Linked DNA regions of Homo sapiens: all the other regions are linked to region 2. The links come from fine-mapping of genetic effects on gene expression. A gene starts in region 2. Each other region holds a variant in brackets. All regions are shown on one strand. Distances are between the middles of the regions. Region 1 overlaps YIPF7 (Yip1 domain family member 7). Region 2 holds the start of GUF1 (GTP binding elongation factor GUF1). Region 3 overlaps KCTD8 (potassium channel tetramerization domain containing 8).

What was found. PIP is the estimated chance that this variant, and not a neighbour inherited with it, causes the effect.
Region 1: its variant is fine-mapped to the expression of GUF1 in skeletal muscle (GTEx, PIP 0.92).
Region 3: its variant is fine-mapped to the expression of GUF1 in prefrontal cortex (ROSMAP, PIP 0.95).

Annotation. Positions count from the first base shown.
Region 1 is chr4:44,619,483-44,622,342 of GRCh38, forward strand. YIPF7 (Yip1 domain family member 7) reads right to left here. Exons shown (of 6, transcript NM_182592.3): 6 at 2,606-2,860. Among named protein-coding and RNA genes, the nearest start is that of YIPF7, 31 kb to the right of the region's middle. The variant T/C (reference allele first, on the strand shown) is at 1,336.
Region 2 is chr4:44,677,210-44,679,709 of GRCh38, forward strand. GUF1 (GTP binding elongation factor GUF1) reads left to right here and starts at 1,211. Exons shown (of 17, transcript NM_021927.3): 1 at 1,211-1,578. The coding sequence starts at 1,414. RefSeq lists an enhancer at 430-1,318 and a silencer at 1,390-1,549.
Region 3 is chr4:44,299,989-44,302,848 of GRCh38, forward strand. The region is part of intron 1 of KCTD8 (potassium channel tetramerization domain containing 8); the gene reads right to left. The region is part of intron 1 of LOC107986275 (a long non-coding RNA gene); the gene reads right to left. Among named protein-coding and RNA genes, the nearest start is that of KCTD8, 150 kb to the right of the region's middle. The variant T/C (reference allele first, on the strand shown) is at 1,754.

The DNA of each region.
Region 1 (2,860 bases), 58 kb before region 2:
TTAACATGTCTATTAATGGGTTATTAGACCGTAACAGTCTAACGTTTACTACAATCCTGCCTTCTTTTCAACATACTCCTACCTTAGAATTCTTCTCATACTTTTGTAATTATCTCATATTAATTGATTGCATATTGTTTATTTTTGTCCACTGCCAATGTATTTCCATTAGGGCTGCAACCATCACCTATCTTATTCACCATAGTGAACAATGCCCAATCACAGTCTCATTCGTTTGTTTATTCATTAATTGAATAAATAAATATTTATCTCCTATTCCTTATCATGAACTGTTGCATATAGACAAGGTCTTTGGCCTCAGAGTGTTTATTTTCTGCGGAGTTGGGGTAGGATAGAAAGCAAGTATCCAAATAAATAACATAATTTCACATAATTGTAACAGCTACTGCAGAGGGTGGACTGAGCAAATCTGGGTGGATGTACTGTTGAAAAAAAAAAGCCAGTGAAGGCCTCTCTCAGGAGGTAACATATAAACAGAGACGTTGATAATATGAAAGATCTGAGGGGAAAATGTTGCAAGTAGACTGAATTTGTATAAAGATCCTGAAGTGGATAAAGTTGGTGGTTTGAGAAGAAGCAATAAAACCAGCGACCAAGAGAGAGAATGGAAGGAGATGATGTCACAAAAGCAAGACATAGTGAGATCGTGCAGGCAAGGCCTTCTTGTCTCACACTTTTCAAACTTAGCTGTGCATGTAAATCATCTGGAATCTTTTTAAAATTCAGACTCTGATTCAGGAAGTCTGGGCCAGGGCCTGAGATTCTGAATTCCTAACAAGCTTCCAAGGGATGCTAATGCTGTTATTCTGGGGACCACTCTGAAAAGGAAGCTTCTGAGTTATAAAAAGGAGGTTTAGTTTTATTGTAAATATGAATAAAAGCCATGAAAGGGCCTTGGGATGACATAATTGCTTTTCATTTTCAAAGGATTACACCGGTGTGAGGAAAAGCTTGTGGGGGAGAAAGTGTGGAAGCAGGAAGCCATTAGGAAATTGCTTCCGTGAGGCAACAGAAGAGGGTGGTTCAGAGTAGCCCAGGCAACGAAGGAGCCCAGGACACACGGTCACGTTTGGGACATGTTTTGATTACATAGTCAAAATAATTGATGGACTAGATATTGGATGTGAAAGTCAGAGTAATCAAGACTGACTACTCTGCAAATGAACCAGTGAGTGATTTGTGGTTCTTGTTATAAAGATGAGAAAATATGGAAGAAGGACAGCTAGGACAGGATAGAAGTCAAGGGTTTGGTTTCAGATATGCTATTATTGAGAATATCATATTAATGATCAAATAGAAATATTAAGTATAAGT[T/C]GTGTATATATGTTAAGAGCTTAGGGAAGAGCATTGAATGTAGATGGAAATTTGGGGGTCACTAGATTTTAAAGTTATTCAATTAAATGAGCTCATCTAGCAGGGGAGAATTAGAGAAGAGATTTAAGTCTGAGAAGAAGAAGAAAGATCAGCCAAGGAGACTGAAAAGAAGCTACTTGTGAGGTAGGAAAATAATTCAAGAACATGTGACACTCTAGAATTTAAGTGAAGAAGTGCTTCAGCATAGTGGCTAATGGAGATTGGGTAATCAAATAAATACCTGTCAGGGTTCAAATAAAATGAAACTGAGAATTGACCATTGAATGTTGCAAGATGTGGGCATTGTTGCTAACTTGACAAAGGGGTCTTGGTGAATAGGATGATAAATTATTGCCTGGAATGTAGGAAAGCAAGAATGGGAGATGATAAAGTAGAAGCAGAGACAATAGAAAACTCTTTCAAGAATTTTTGCAATAAAAAGGAGCAGAGAATGAGCCATAATTGGAGAAAGATGTTAAATCAAAGGAGTTTTATTTTAAGGTAAGAGATATTGAAACATGTTCACGTGCTGACATAAATGATAGGTGATGAGAAAATATGGGTTATGCAGGTGGAGGGGCTGGCTGTGGAGAGAAGAGAGAGATGAGAGGAAAAGAAGAGTATATATGGGTTAAGATGCATGTATGTTGAGAGGGAAGAAAGTGAGAAGACAAGCACTTTTCTTCTAGATGTTTCTGTTTTGCAATAAAATAAGAATCAACAAACAGTAGAAAATGAGGAAGGAGTATTGGGGATTTCAGCAGTGAAGAATTGGTGGGATATATTCATCTCAGATAGCATGGAGGCAAATTTAAGAGAATGTAGTGGGATTCAAGGGTAGTACTGAGGAGCCATTTAAGACATGGTAATACAATAAACATGAAGTAAGTGGGATTTCTTCTATTAACATTCACCTACTTAGGGAGAAAATGGCAAGGTTGCTGAGGATACATGCAAGAAAGAAATTATAGTAATGAACCATGGCATCTAAACCAAGTAAGAAGGAAGTGAGGGCCTGAAAAAGTGGTGAGTCAATGCATTATATAAATGAGACTGAAGAATAGTTATTAAAGAAGTGAATTGAAAGGCAAGAGTTTCTTTGATTCTTTAGGTAAATAAAACCCTATATAACATACCCCTGAACTCTCCAAAGGTGCAGAACAGTGCAGTTTTTAGCCACATGCACACAGCTTGAGCTGTCATGAAAGTTTCTCAAAAGGCTTACTAGAGATTTCCTTTTAGTAAACATATGAGTTTATTTACTTACTTTTCTCAGAAATACCTCTATTGAGAAAAGCAGGGTTGATCAGTACAGCAACTGTATCCCTTTTGATTTTAAGTATTTTGAAATGTTTTAATGCACCAAACTCAAAAGCAAAACATCATTCAAACCAACAGGCTATTAGAGCACCACCCTTAAGTGCTGCTTTGTCTCTCTGCTTATTACTCTCTCAAAAGCAATAAAACAGAAATCATATCACCAAAT
Region 2 (2,500 bases):
AATTAGTCGTCTATCAAGTACTGTTTTAATTCATAAAAGTTCCAAGAAAGGGCCAGGCGCGGTGGCTCACGCCTGTAATCGCAACACTTTGGGAGGCCGAGGTGGGCAGATCACGAGGTCAGGAGTTCGAGATCAGCGTGACCAACATGGTGAAACCCCGTCTCTACTAAAAATACAAAAATTAGCCATGATTGCTGGCGCGCGCCTGTAATCCCAGCTACTCAGGAGACTGAGGCAGGAGAATCGCTTGAGCCCAGGAGGCGGAGGTTGCAGTGAGCCGAGATAGCGCTACTGTACTCCAGCCTGGGCGACAGAGCGAGACACCATCTCAGGGGGGAAAAAAAAATCCAAGAAAGAACTGAGTCTGGTACAGAATTCTTGATCCTAAGAAATCCTCCAAATGAAGAAACTTTCAAAGGCTCTGGAAACAATACGAATGATTCTGTCTTCAGTCACAATGATGAACTGAACACAGCTGTCATCTCCCTCCTTCGCACCAAATTCTGGATATTCCAGAAAAGCGCAAGAGAAATAGTGGGAGACAAACACTGGATGCAATCCTCCTATCACCTGTTTTATCCCCCATTCTTACTTCGTCAGAGCTCATTCCATGAAGTGGTAACTTGATGACGATGGAAACATTGGGGGTCCAGCATGGAACTTTTTCCCACCTTTACTTCTTGCCAAAACCTTCCTGGATTCAGTATTGCAATCAATGTTATGGCCCGTTTCCTTTCAGATGCACTTCAAGATTAGCTCTGTCACTGACAACATGGGGAATACATTTCGACCTCCAGATTTTAAAAGTGCCATTATTATTTTGCCATTAGGTAGAAGGCTAAGTCTCAACGTTGTGCTAATAATAGCATCTTTAAGTCCCTGGACTAAGACCTCGGCTCCTGGTTCGGGAATCAGACTGCCTGGGCGGCACTCCAGGCTCCACAGCTCCCCACCTGTGAGCTCCTGGGCAAGTCACTCGGTCCGGATTTCCAGAGGTAGTTTGGGGGAACTGACAGTACACACACCACAGGGCAGTAGTAAGAAAGAGACAATGCAAAGGAATTGGCACAGCACTCAGCAGACAATATAAGCTAATATGTACTCTGTCTACACCCTGCGTTTTAGGGAGTCAATCGAAAGCCTCCACTCACGTGACCACTCCACTACCCGGCGCCAAGACGCGCTGATGTCACGACAGCGTGCGGCGTGCAGACGTCGGCAAGCTGCGCCGCCGCTTCGGGTTGCTTCCGGATCTGGTACTTGGGCAGAGCTCCCCGGGGTTCATTGTCTTCGCTTCACAGGATCTGTTTGAGTCCTGTCCACCGGATCCTACGGGGGGTACCTTCGAAAAAAAACGGGCTATGCTGCTGTTGCGTGTGGGTACCCTCTCCTGACGCCTCCGCCGCCCGGGTCATGTGGACCCTCGTGGGTCGGGGCTGGGGGTGCGCACGCGCTCTCGCGCCACGAGCCACTGGGGCCGCGCTTCTGGTGGCCCCGGGGCCCCGGTCCGCGCCGACCCTTGGGGCTGCTCCAGAGTCCTGGGCTACCGACAGGCTCTACAGCTCCGCAGAATTCAAGGTGACTGCCCCCTGGAATCTGATTTAGCCAAGTTTTCAAACGTTGGAGTGCCCCATGCGATCTTGGACATGTATAGGGCTTTCTGGGACTAGCTCTGAACCCTGCTTGCAACTTGGTACAGGGAGGCAGAGCGGAGAGTGTGAGCACTGCTCAGGTTCCCGACCCTCCACTCCTCACTAGTGTGACCTTGGGCAAGTCACTAACTTTGTAGGTTTTCTCATTTTCAATGTCAAATGTTGATTTGTTTACGCGAGCCACTGGTCGAAGTGCTTTGCGTTTATTCATCTATTTAATTCTAAAAAGCCTACTAAGCAAGTTGCTAGTAAATATTAATATAACGTCCATTTTCCTGCAAATTAAGTAGCTATGTGGCCTGGGCAAGTTACTACATTGTCACTCTCCTACTTCATTTGTTGAATGCAGAACTGATCAAACATCCAGTGGCTAATTTGTGAGATTTGTGTGATGTGAGAAGTGGACTTTTTTAGACTAATACCTAGAATGCAGGAAGTTCTCGGTCTGTCTTTGTAGTTTTATTTCATTCTACCTCAGCCAGAGCAAACCTGTGTAATTTTGACTCTGGTGGGAGAGGGTGGGAGGTTCAACAACTCTGATAATTGTGAATGGATACATTTTAGTCAGAAAAGTGAAGTGACTGAAGGCAAGCTATAAGTAGGCAGAAAGACAAAACCTTAAATTAATCAACTTTGGCCCTAATATGCCTGTGTTTTTAAAAATGGATTTATATTGCAATTCGAAGTATAAAGATGGTGCAATTCTCTATACCTTTTGAACTGAAGGGAAAGAAAATCTACAGGGCAAACATCAGAATTAGTTTTTTTTCGGCAGACTTTCAGCTATAATTGTGCTTTTATTATCTGTCTTTATGGGGCTATTAAAAAACAAAGCTCACGTGAATTTT
Region 3 (2,860 bases), 380 kb before region 2:
GACCACCCGCCTCGGCCTCCCAAAGTGCTGGGATTACAGCTGTGAGCCACCGCACTCGGCCGCCTTAGGTGATTTTTAAAAATAACCTGACTCTTGACTATTTTTCAAATGTAATGGAAATTCAGAGTTGTCCAAAATAACCTACAGAGGTGTAGAATAACATGCTGTTTTGATTTATAACTAAGTCTACACACTTATGAGTAAATTAGAACAGATTAAAGCCCTCCAAAGTTCTGATATTTATCAGAGGCACAGCTTCTATTTCAGTTCCCAATCACGATTTTTATCACTAATAATATAATAAATGTAAAGCACTGTCCACAATGGATCTAATTACAATCATGCTATCAGAAAAAAAAGGTTATATTCATGTACATCATGAGAAAACGTTTTCTGTATTGCCATCTCTTTTCAAATAAAAACTTGTTTGAAATATTCTATTAAAAGGTTACGGAAAAGAATAATCAGTTTTGCAATCTGATCAGAAAAAAAGGTTATATTCATGTATAACATGAGAAAACATTTTCTGTATTGCCATCTCTTTTTAAATAAAAACTTGTTTGAAATATTCTATTAAAAGGTTACAGAAAAGAATAATCAGCTTTGCAATCTGATTGCAACAAGAGAATGTACTGTTATATGCAATAACTAGAAAAATAAACTTATGGTATGTTTTTTAAATGCTTATTCAAACTAATCCTACACCAGTAGGATTATCAATAAGAACTCTTTTTTTTATTATTATACTTTAAGTTTTAGGGTACACGTGCACAATGTGCAGGTTAGTTACATATGTATATATGTGCCATGCTGGTGTGCTGCACCCATTAACTCGTCATTTAGCATTAGGTATATCTCCCAAAGCTATCCCTCTCCCCTCCCCCCACCCCACAACAGTCCCCAGAGTGTGATGTTCCCCTTCCTGTGTCCATATGTTCTCATTGTTCAATTCCCATCTATGAGTGAGAACATGCGGTGTTTGGTTTTTTGTCCTTGCGATAGTTTACTGAGAATGATGATTTCCAATTTCATCCATGTCCCTACAAAGGACATGAACTCATCATTTTTTATGGCTGCATAGTATTCCATGGTGTATATGTGCCACATTTTCTTAATCCAGTCTATCGTTGTTGGACATTTGGGTTGGTTCCAAGTCTTTGCTATTGTGAATAATGCCGCAATAAACATATGTGTGCATGTGTCTTTATAGCAGCATAAGTTATAGTCCTTTGGGTATATACCCAGTAATGGGATGGCTGGGTCAAATGGTATTTCTAGTTTTAGATCCCTGAGGAATCGCCACACTGACTTCCACAATGGTTGAACTAGTTTACAGTCCCACCAACAGTGTAAAAGTGTTCCTAGTTCTCCACATCCTCTCCAGCACCTGTTGTTTCCTGACTTTTTAATGATTGCCATTCTAACTGGCGTGAGATGTTATCTCATTGTGGTTTTGATTTGCATTTCTCTGATGGCCAGTGATGATGAGCATTTTTTCATATGTCTTTTGGCTGCATAAATGTCTTCTTTTGAGAAGTGTCTGTTCATATCCTTTGCCCACTTTTTGATGGGGTTGTTTCTTTTTTTCTTGTAAATTTGTTTGAGTTCATTGTAGATTCTGGATATTAGCCCTTTGTCAGATGAGTAGGTTGTGAAAATTTTCTCCCATTTCATAGGTTGCCTGTTCACTCTAATGGTAGTTTCTTTTGCTGTGCAGAAGCTCTTTAGTTTAATTAGATCCCATTTGTCAATT[T/C]TGGCTTTTGTTGCCATTGCTTTTGGTGTTTTAGACATGAAGTCCTTGCCCATGCCTATGTCCTGAATGGTAATGCCTGGGTTTTCTTCTAGGGTTTCTATGGTTTTAGTTCTAACATTTAAGTCTTTAATCCATCTTGAATTAATTTTTGTATAAGGTGTAAGGAAGGGATCCAGTTTCAGCTTTCTACATATGGCTAGCCAGTTTTCCCAGCACCATTTATTAAATAGGGAATCCTTTCCCCATTGCTTGTTTTGCTCAGCTTTGCCAAAGATCAGATAGTTGTAGATATGTGGCGTTATTTCTGAGGGCTCTGTTTTGTTCCATTGATCTATATCTCTGTTTTGGTACCAGTACCATGCTGTTTTTGTTACTGTAGCCTTGTAGTATAGTTTGAAGTCAGGTAGCGTGATGCCTCCAGCTTTGTTCTTTTGGCTTAGGATTGACTTGGGATTGCGGGCTCTTTTTTGATTCCATATGAACTTTAAAGTAGTTTTTTCCAATTCTGTGAAGAAAGTCATTGGTAGCTTGATGCGGATGGCATTGAATCTATAAATTACCTTGGGCAGGATGGCCATTTTCACAATATTGATTCTTCCTACCCATGAGCATGGAATGTTCTTCCACTTCTTTGTAACCTCTTTTATTTCATTGAGCAGTGGTTTGTAGTTCTCCTTGAAGAGGTCCTTCACGTCCCTTTTAAGTTGGATTCCTAAGTATTTTATTCTCTTTGAAGCCATTGTGAATGGGAGTTCACTCATGATTTGGCTCTCTGTTTGTCTGTTATTGGTGTATAAGAATGCTTGTGATTTTTGTACATTGATTTTGTATCCTGAGACTTTGCTGAAGTTACTTATCAGCTTAAGGAGATTTTGGGCTGAGACAATGGGGTTTTCTAGATATACAATCATGTCGTCTGCAAACAGGGACAATTTGACTTCCTCTTTTCCTAATTGAATACCCTTTATTTCCTTCTTCTGCCTAATTGCCCTGGCCAGAACTTCCAACACTATGTTGAATAGGAGTGGTGAGAGAGGGCATCCCTGTCTTGTGCCAGTTTTCAAAGGGAATGCTTCCAGTTTTTGCCCATTCAGTATGATATTGGCT